2 separate regions of the Homo sapiens genome follow, and region 2 is linked to region 1. The links come from fine-mapping of genetic effects on gene expression. A gene starts in region 1. The other region holds a variant in brackets. All regions are shown on one strand. Distances are from middle to middle. Region 1 holds the start of LINC00926 (long intergenic non-protein coding RNA 926). Region 2 overlaps TCF12 (transcription factor 12).

Evidence for each region. PIP is the estimated chance that this variant, and not a neighbour inherited with it, causes the effect. A credible set is the group of variants that fine-mapping cannot tell apart.
Region 2: its variant is the best candidate, but not a certain one, in a credible set for the expression of LINC00926 in spleen (GTEx, PIP 0.79).

Annotation. Positions count from the first base shown.
Region 1 is chr15:57,297,533-57,302,786 of GRCh38, reverse strand. It overlaps LINC00926 (long intergenic non-protein coding RNA 926), which reads right to left and starts at 2,422. Exons shown (of 3, transcript NR_024433.1): 1 at 1,863-2,422. RefSeq lists enhancers at 3,761-3,880, 4,363-4,412.
Region 2 is chr15:57,057,638-57,062,637 of GRCh38, reverse strand. All of the region lies in intron 3 of TCF12 (transcription factor 12), which reads right to left. Among named protein-coding and RNA genes, the nearest start is that of TCF12, 140 kb to the right of the region's middle. The variant A/G (reference allele first, on the strand shown) is at 2,138.

The sequences.
Region 1 (5,254 bases):
GCCAAGGACACCAGGCATTGTGGAACAGGGTATAGGGCCGACTCAACACACTCACCACCGCCCTGCCCCAGGCAACCTGTATGGGCCGAAAGAGATGACTTAAACTAGGAGTAAAGTACCAAACTGTACATTCTTTTTACAGCCAGCCCTCTGTATTCATGGATCATAATATTCAGATAAAAAAATGAATGATAGCATTTGTACTGAAGTTGTACAGCCTTTTTTTCTTGTCATTATTCCCTAAGCAATACAGCGTAGCAACTACTTACATAGCATTTACATTGCATTAGGTATTATAAGTAATCTAGTGATGATTTAAAGTATATGGGAAGATGTGTGTAGGTTATGTGCAAATACCATACCATTTTATATCAAGGACTTGAGCATCCATGGGTTTTGGTGTTCACAGGGCTGGGGGTGGCAGTGTCTGGGATCAATCTGCCATGAATAGCAAGGGACAGCTGTACTCCGTGTGTGCTTGGCTGGCTAACACAGGAATATAATTTAGCAAAGAACTCTCTTCTCCACCAGAGAAGACTCACACCCATGAAGAATGAAGATTGAAGATTTGAAGATTTTTCTTGTAGTATAGTAACTTTGTGTTAACCTATTTCCCATCTCCCATTACACTGTGATTTCCTTGGGGTAGCCTGTTATCAGCCAATGCCATGTGGGGCAGAAGAACTGCCCATCTGAGCCCTGCCTGAATTCCTGAACCATAAAATCATATTAAAAATGATTTGTAATTGAATAATTGATTGAATGAGGGAATGGACATTAAACTGAGGATTACCTGGAAAATCTGATTTATTATCTGATTTCTACCAATGGGACCCAGGGTCAATGGCTGGAGGAAGCTTTTAACATCCTACCAATTCAAAGGGACTCCTGTCTTGGTGAGAGCCTCCAAATGGGTTGATTGAGAATTCAGTGCAACTTAGCAAGTATAAGAATCCACGTACAGTGGAGGGGTCCCTGCTCTAAAACTCCCACCACATTGGGCCCGCAGTCCCCCAGACCAATATTTGTGATTGCAAAACCACTGCTCCTATTATTAGCATGACTGGCTCTGTCACCACAGTCAGGTCCTCCCTGACTTGGGCCCTCTCTGGGTTAACTTCTCCCTCCTTAGGTCCCAGCATCCTGTGTCCTCACCCTGGAGAGCATATGCTACAATACCTTAAAATTTCTCACCACCTTCTTGGCCTCTACTGCTGGTCTGAGTGGTGGCCATCTTCAGATCTCCTTTGGCACCCAGTACCCCACATGTTTTAGGGATGAGGGAGAAGAAGCAGGGGGTGCCAGAGCTCAGCTTCAGCTCTTCCTGGCAGGGAACTGGAGCTCGAGACTGAAATGTATTTTGTTACTTTATTTATTCAGAGATGGAGTCTCGCTCTCTCACCCAGGCTGGAGTGCAATGGCGCAATCTTGGCTCACTGCAACCTCTGCCTCTGAGGCTCAAGCGATTCTCCTCCCTCACCCTCCTGAGTAGGTGGGATTACAGGGGCCTGCCACCATGCCCAGCTACAATTTTTTTTTTTGTTTTATTTTCTAGGGGAGATGGGGTTTCACCACGTTGGCCAGGCTGGTTTCAAACTCGTGACCTCAAGTAATCCGCCTGCCTTAGCCGCCCAAAGTGCTGGGATTGCAGGCATGAGCAGCCGAGTCTGGCCTATTTTGTTACTTTAACTTATTATGAAAGTTTCCTAATGCACATGAAAGTAGGTGAGAATCAAAATTAAACTTTCATGTATCTTCGTCTAGTTTCACTAATTATCAACATTCTGACATTCTCACTTTGTCTACCATGTACTTTTGGCTAGAATATTTAAAAAATAAATGACCAGTATCATATGACTTACCCGTAAACACTTCAAAATATGAGCTTGAGATGTAGAATCACTGATTTTGGGGTTAAATGAACCTCAAAAGTCCTCCTGTGTTCAAATGGGCCTGGGCTTGGAAGCTCTGCAGTGGGTGCCCGGCTCTTGGAGACCCCGGCCACAGCGGGAGGGGGATACAACGTGGATGCTGGAATCAGCTCTCTGCCTGGATCCTGGGAAAACGCCCCCTGGAGTGATTGGCTTAGTTCTTCTTGGGCCCATCACAGTTCATCCAAGTAATCCACTTGCTTCCTGTTCTCCAACTCCTCTGTCACGTGCAGCCATTTCATCTTCACACCACACCCTTGTGATTTAGGGAGTATCATCTCCATCACGCCTGTAATCCCAGCACTTTGGAAGGCCAAGGAGGGCAGATCACGAGGTCAGGAGTTTGAGACCAGCCTGACCAACATGGTGAAACCTCGTCCCTACTAAAAATACAAAAATTAGCTGGGAGTGGTGGCGGGCGCCTGTAATCCCAGCTACTCAGGAGGCTGAGGCAGGAGAATTGCTTGAACCCAGGAGGCGGAGGTTGCAATGAGCCGAGATCACGCCACTGCACTCCAGCCTGGGTGACAGAGCGAGACTCTGTCTCAAAAAAAAAAAAAAAAATTTCCCCCACCCCTTATTATTTGCATATTACAAGCAAACCAGTTTATGCTCGGAGAGGCTAAGTGACTTGCCCAGGGTTACCCAGGTAGTGGAGGGAGAAGCAGAATTCCCACCCAGCTCTGCTGAACTCCGATGCCCTAGCTTGCCTGGTGGCACCCACAACCGGCCCTCAGTGTCCACTTCTGAGTTTAGCCTGGGCAAGAGACTGGTCCATAAACGACTTCCTGCCCAGTGGTAAACAGTGGAAGGCAGGCTCCTGTGTTTCTCGTGGTTGGTGGTAATCGCTGCTTTTGCAAAGTGGCTTTTGGGGAGGAGAGGTTTTAGGAAGTGTGTTAAATGAGGGGGGAAGTGTTACTTGGGGGTTTCCCAGCACTCAACACGCACACTGCAGGGGCTGCCCTCCCCCGCAGCACACTGGGAGAGCCTGTCCTCCAGCGCTGCCCACGCCCGGCCGTGGGTCTCATTCCCCACTGGATCTCCTGTCTTTGATGTCAAATATACCCAATTCATCTCTTTCATATCACTACAAAGGAGCCTCCTAATTACTCTGTTTAGACAGCCTCTTCTCCAAATATTAAACATTTGGTCTTCCCAGGCCCCCCAAGCATTTAATATCATCAAGGTTGTTGCGAAATCCACTTTTCCCCCAACTGGTGGGCAGATTCCTTTCTCTCTCCATTCCCAGCCTCCCTGGGCAGATCTGGACAAGTCACCCCACATATTCTTTTCCCAAGCAGGCTGCCCTTGGGACACAGCCCTTTTCTTCTGGTGAGAGGGTCGGAGCAGTGGGGTGGACCTTGAGCGTTTTCTTGAATCTCAGCCCTGTTGGGAAGCCCTGGAGAAGCCTTGGGGAGACCCAAGGACTCAGGGGTGACCTGTCATGCCTGACGCAGGTATGTGGGGCATCTCCACCTTTGGTGGTGGCAGGCCCAGCACCAAGTCCAGAACGTTTGCTGGCTGGTGGGGAAACAGAGACTTCCTGGTTCCAGATCAGAAACTGCCTTGAGTAGCTGCATCTCTCCAGACACCAGATGCTCGGTACCTGAGGCTCCCATAGCCTCTCCTCCTTCAAAAGAAAGAAAGAAAAAAAAAAGCACTCTAATCCTGGAACCCGTCCCCATCCCGAACCTCCACGGCCTTGCCACCGCTTCCTTAGGTAGAGAAGTCGGCTCACATTTCTTCCTACTCAACAGCTGCTAGTGTTCGCCCTTCTAATGCCTCCCTCCTGGTCCCATGGGCCTTTGCCAGCTGATGTCATGGCACAGTGCTATGTCATAGGTCTGTGCTATGCTCCCTGTTCTGCTCTCTCTTCATGGTGTGGCTGGTCCCCAGAAGGACTCTGTGGCTTGGGACTGCTCCCCAGACATCCCTCCTGTCTCCTCATGGGCCTTGTTGCTCTGGCTGAGCAGAAAACAGCCTCCCCATTCCCCCGGCCCCACACCAACGCGGGGGTCAAGGAAGGTTTCCAAAGGGACATTTGAGCAGAATCTTTTCCTTCTCTCCTTCCCTTTCTCCTTTCCCTGCCTTCCCATCTCCCTTCCTTCTTTCTTTCAACTTTTTATTACGAAAAACTTCATTTTCAAAAGTAAAGTGTATAATGAACCCCCATTTACCTATCTCACCCAGCATCAATGCTGATAGACCGGGCCAATCTTGTTTCCTCAAAACCCCCTAACCCCACTACCCACCCTCCAACAATGGATGGTATTGAAGCGGATTCCAGACAGCGATTGTATCATTCTCTCTGTAAACACTTCAGTGTGTATCTCTAACAGACAAGGACTTTTAGAGAAACATAACCACAGTATCACATCTAAAAATATAAACAGTAGTCCAGTCAGTGTTCGAATTGTTTCATAACTGCACTTTTTAAAGTGGCTTGTTTGGATCAGGATGCTGAGCAGACAGACTTGAAGGGATTGAAGGGTGACACATTTTGGTGTGGGTGTGGGCTGGTGGTGGTGATGGGGAAGCACATTCTCACAATTCTTGGACACTTGATTGGCCTACTGCAGACAGCAGGGATTCCCTTTTTTTTTTTTTTTTTAGACGGAGTCTTGCTCTGTTGCCCAGGCTGGAGTGCAGCGGCATGATCTCAGCTCACTGCAACCTCCGCCTCCTGGGTTCAAGCGATTCTCCTGCCTCAGCCTCCTGAGTAGCTGGGATTACAGGCAGGCACCACCATGCCTGGCTAATTTTTGTATTTTTAGTAGAGACAGGGTTTCATCATGTTGATCAGGCTGGTCTCGAACTCCTGACCTTGTGATCCGCCTGCCTTGGGCTCCCGAAGTGCTGGGATTACAGGCGTGAGCCACTGGCCAGGACTCCCAATTTTTATTAACCTCTACTGAACTCATTTTCACAAATCATTGCTCAGTTGTTTCCCTGGCCAATTGAGACTCAGGGGTATGTCACTTCCTCCAGGCAGCCTTCCCTGCATCCTGGCCCCCAGTCAGCCCGGGCAGGTGTTCTTGTTCTATAACTGAGTTCACTGTCTTTCCCAGGTGACACTGTTTGTAGCTCCCTATAATAAGTCTTCCTCAGGGGCAGCATGTGCGAGACACAGTCGGGTCTATTAGACATGTGCTACTGAATAAAGAGGAGGTCAGCCCTCATCCATTTCTGATTTGCTGCCCTGTGGGTTTGCTTTCTTTAGGTGGGTTAGGAAGTGCCTCCTATGTGCCATGCATCTCTGAATTCTTCAGTTAATTCTCACAACCGTCATGTAAGCTGATACGATCATTAATTATCCCCATTTC
Region 2 (5,000 bases), 240 kb after region 1:
CTAAGGCTCTTTTATAGTGACACAATTGCCAAATTGAAAGGATGGGTAACAAAAAGCAGGGAAGGGGGAGGGGTCAGTTTCCAAAGTAGAATGTACTAATTACTAACTTAGTTATTAGGACTCTATTATTTTTATGAATCTGTACTTCCTGTATCAAGTGACTAAAGTATATTTTAATAACTTTTTTTAAAAAGTTGATACAAAAGATGAGTATCTAGTATAGACAACATTCCAGGCACAATTTCAAGTGAACCAGAGGCTTTGAAAACACAGAGATTACGTGAACAGTGTTTTGTTCATTCCTGTGGAGCTAGTATTAAAGTTCCAAATTTAAGAGATATTCTATGAGTTTGGGGAATGTCATGTAAAAAACACTGTTACCGGCCGGGCACCGTGGCTCACGCCTGTAATCCTAGCACTTTGGGAGGCCGAGGCGGGCAGATCACAAGGTCAGGAGATCGAGACCATCCTGGCTAATACGGAGAAACCCCGTCTCTACTAAAAATACAAAAAATTAGCCAGGTGTGGTGGCGGGCGCCTGTAGTCCCAGCTACTCAGGAGGCTGAGGCAGGAGAATAGCTTGAACCTAGAAGGTGGAGGTTGCAGTGAGCCGAGATTGTGCCACTGCACTCCAGCCTGGGTGACAGAGCAAGACTCCATCTCAAAAAAACAAAAAAAAAACACTGTTACCATCTCTCCAGTATCATTAGACACCAGTGAGCTATCTTCCAAGCATTTTCTCTGCAACCAACACTGTAGAATAGCAGCAAGTATTCCTCTGAGACTCAATCCAAGAAAAAGATGACCATTAACCTACAAAATCCACTAATATATGGAACTGCATATAATTTTATGAAAAGTTGTATTTTAAAAAATCACTTTTATTGAACATATAATGGTAAGTGATTTCGATGAATCTTGTCCTGATGAAAATAATCAAACCATAACTTAGTCTTTTTATGACTTCATATTTTCTTATATCAAATGACTAATAAATATGAGGCTTATGTGTATTTTAATTTTTATCTCATTTAGAGGCAGCGTTCATGTTCTGTCATCCAGGCTGCAGTACAGTGGCATGATGATAGCTCACTGCAACCACAAAATCCTGGGCTCAAGTGATCCTCCTGCCTCAGCTTCCTCAGTGCTAGGACTATAGGAACATGCCACAATGCTCAGCTAATCATTAATTTTTTTTTTTATTTTGTAGAGACAGAGTCTTACACTATGTTGCCTAGGTTGGTCTTGAACTCCTGGCCTCCAGCGATTCTCCCTCCATGGCCTCCTAAAGTGCTGGGATCACAGGTGTGAACCACTATGCCCAGCTTTGCATGTATTTTAAATACATTTGTAAAAACAGAGAGAGAGGAAAGATGGGTGCCAGTTACAGAGAACATCTCAAGCAAAATTCAAGAGACACACAAAATTATGTGAAACTACATATTCAATTTTCATCAAGTGACTCTACTTCTATAAAATAAAGAAAAAGCAAAGACTAATGAAATAAAATGGTAATTAATTGGGTGATGGCATCACCAGCTAAAGAGTAGTACATACCACTGATACTGGAAATGACAAGGGGCTCAAAGAATGCTATAGAATAACAAGAATCTGGCTAGGTTTTAAACTCAAGCTCTGTAGTTTTATTGTTAACATATCCAGACTCTGAGTAAAAGGTCGTGGCTGGCACTGACAAAGGCAAGAGTCATCTTTTAGAATCAATGACTCCTTTCTGCTAAAGACAATGGCTGTACAAACACAGAAATATGACAGGAATAATAAACTTTCCAAAGCTTCAGCCGTAAGACCAAGGTAAGCAGAAAAAGGAAATTACACACAGAAGATAAAACTTAACACAGATATTATACAAATTGACCAAAATCTGAAAAAAATACCTATTGACAAGAAAATACACCACAGTTGCAATACAGTGATGAGAAGTAACATTTTTCCTGTTATTTCTGAATTATCATTCCCATATTATTTTCATCATTCCCATTTCTAGTATATGCATGCGAATTCAACAATTTCAGAGAAGTTAGTTCCTTGACTCATAAACCAAAATGGCAGATGTAAGAGAAAGTTCAGCAATAATTAATGATAGAAACACTTTTGAGCCTTATTTGACTTTCTAATA[A/G]ATTTTTTCCATTTCTATTCAACAGGATTAAAAGGGGTGATCAATAACAGAAAGACGTAAATTATTTTTTTCCTTGTTAACCTTTTATATAGATAATCTCTTAGTACCTGGTTTTCTGAATGGAATCAATTAAGTCAAATGTAATATATTCTGATTCTATGAGCTCCATTTTTAAAAGCATGCTGTTTTAACTTAGTATTTTCCAGTAAGGAACATTAAATTCTAGACCTCGTATCTAAAAACAACAGTTTGTGAACTTAACAAAAGCAATCCGCCTCTTTCTTTTGTGAAAACATTTAACAAGAAAAGTAACTAAGAGCAATCATAAATTACTATATATACAGGCAGTTCCCTAAAAGGCTGATACCTTAAAGAAGGAATAGAAAGGTAAAATTCAAGTTTTTAAGGTTTCAGAGTATAAGACTCTTAGAGGAACAGGTAAACTTCTTGCCCAAGTCCAACATCTGCCATTACTCCCTTTTCTAGGAAGAACACAGATTTAGACTACCTTCTTATGCTCTACTCCCATCTTAGTATTTGAATAACAGTATTTTCTTTCTAGTGTCAATCAAAAACTATCCCACAGCCTCTCTCCTACTTCTTCCCTTTCATCAAGCCACCAGAGTCCTATGGGCATCTCTAGGTTTTGATCCACTAGCAAAAACTGGAAACTGGAATTTTTTTTTTTTTTTTTTTTGGTGGGAGGAGATGCTTTTCTATGCCCTAAGCACCTATTGTGTTTCCCTCCACCCTCCCCCCAGCCCCCCACCACATATGAGCCCTGTAAACAAATTATTGTTAACACTGCAGAGTTTGAGTAAGTAAACCATCATTAAAGAATTGGTGAGACTTAGGCAAGACCTGCCTGAAAGTAAAAGGGAAGAATTAGGAACAAACCTGCTGACATGAACACCAGTTCCTTCTCTGCCCATTTGCCACTACCAGACCTATCACTAAAGACTCCGCCACCCTGAACCAAGACTAGGGTAAAGTGAGAAATAAGACAGGAAATGGGAAAATATTTTCAGTTAGTAGTGGTGAGTCTGATGACCCAAGAAAGAATGAAAGGATGAAACAGGGAGACAGCATACAAGAATGAGAGAAATGGTTAGGATGTCCCTGCAGCAAAAGCAGTAAGAAAAGCAATTCAATCTGGCCATACTGCTAGGGTATCATAAATGAGAGCCCATCCCTGTGGGAAAGAGACACACATACAGTTGGGAGCAAGGGCACAGGGAAAATCACATACACATTTCTCTCTTTTTCTCCCCCCACCCGCTGGTGCACATGTGCACTCTGCCTTTAGTAGCACTGAAATCAAATTTTTATTCTAGAAAGTAAAATGTACTCCAAAAATATCAAATCTCAGCACTGTCATAAATAAGGGAAACATAACATATTTTGCAGGATTGCCATCTGCTGTAGGGGGATCCAATAAATGATTTGATGAAAGAATTCTGACTAGAGATAGCTATATCAGATAATCAAAGCTATGAATGTGTCTATTTTTAATAGTGTCTTTATTCAATTCTATTTGTAGAGTAAGGATATTCCTTTAGATAAGACTCAAAGGCTGCAATCAATTGTAAACTAATATACACCTAAAAAACCAACACCAAGATTTTTTATTGTATTTTTCACATTTTAGACACTCATGAAATAAATCTATGAATGTATTTTCCCAGACATTCATTGTGAAATAGGATCAGTTAGAATATAATAACAAGTGCTTTGTTATGCTACACATTAGTAAAAAAGGGAAAAGCTAGGAAAATATTAAAATTGCAAGGGAATTTAATAGAAGTTAAAACATGCTACCTCATCTAAAGTATATAACATTAGTTATAGACTTTTTTACTTATAAAAAATTTAGGTTCTGTGCAGTGAATTGTCAAATAAAACAGTCTAAAAAACACATATGTAAGAAAGTAAGTCCGGTGGAAAGATTAGAAGGAATCACCCTTTCCGGTCATCTTTAATAATCCAATCAGAATTTTTGTTTGGCACTGTTGAAACCAAAGATTTACAAGTACAGATGTTCCATTAAAGTTTTTAGTGCCACAGTACAGTACAATAAGGTAATGAACACATGGCAAATTTCATTCAAAAAAATGACTAATTTTGAAAATGACTTTCATACATAGATTTTGCTATATTATTGTTACTAGCTATATCACCCTGATACAAATGCCCTGTAAAGATACAAAAGGAAAACCCAATGACTGATTTAATCAAAGAAGTAAGAGTACAGGGCCAAAAGGAAATGCCAAGTCTATCTCTTTAAGAAAAACAGAAACTGCCTGATGGCCAGGAATTGAAAGTAATACGTTCCCAGGGGTCGACTTGGGAATTGTTTAATGGGAACTATATAGTGATATGGTGGTCACTGTATTTTGAGGACTTGTTCTGACTGTCTGAACAGACATTCCAAGACTGACAAAGGCTCTTGAGCTACCTTTAAAACTCCCCTAAATTAGCTGTCAAGTTTCTAGAAAGAAGGAAGGGCCCTCCCAACGTACCTGAGAACCAAGTATTCTCCCAATCTAATATACCAAAGCCCTGTATCTGAAGACCAATGCCAGTGTTTTCTTCCATAGAAGCACTACAAACGTAGTTTTAAGAAAGGAAAAACAAAAAACAAAACGTTGATGCTATTTTTAACACAATCAAATCATCTCTGACCTGCATTACTGTAATAGTCTCCTAAATGTTTTCCCTTCTTCTTGCCCCTCCTACTAGAGCAACCTTTTAAAAACAAGCCAAATCATGTCCATCCTGTGCTCAAAACCTACCAATGGCTTCCCAACTCATTCAGAATTACTAATAAACCCAATGGTCTACAATGTTTTACAGGTTCTGCCTC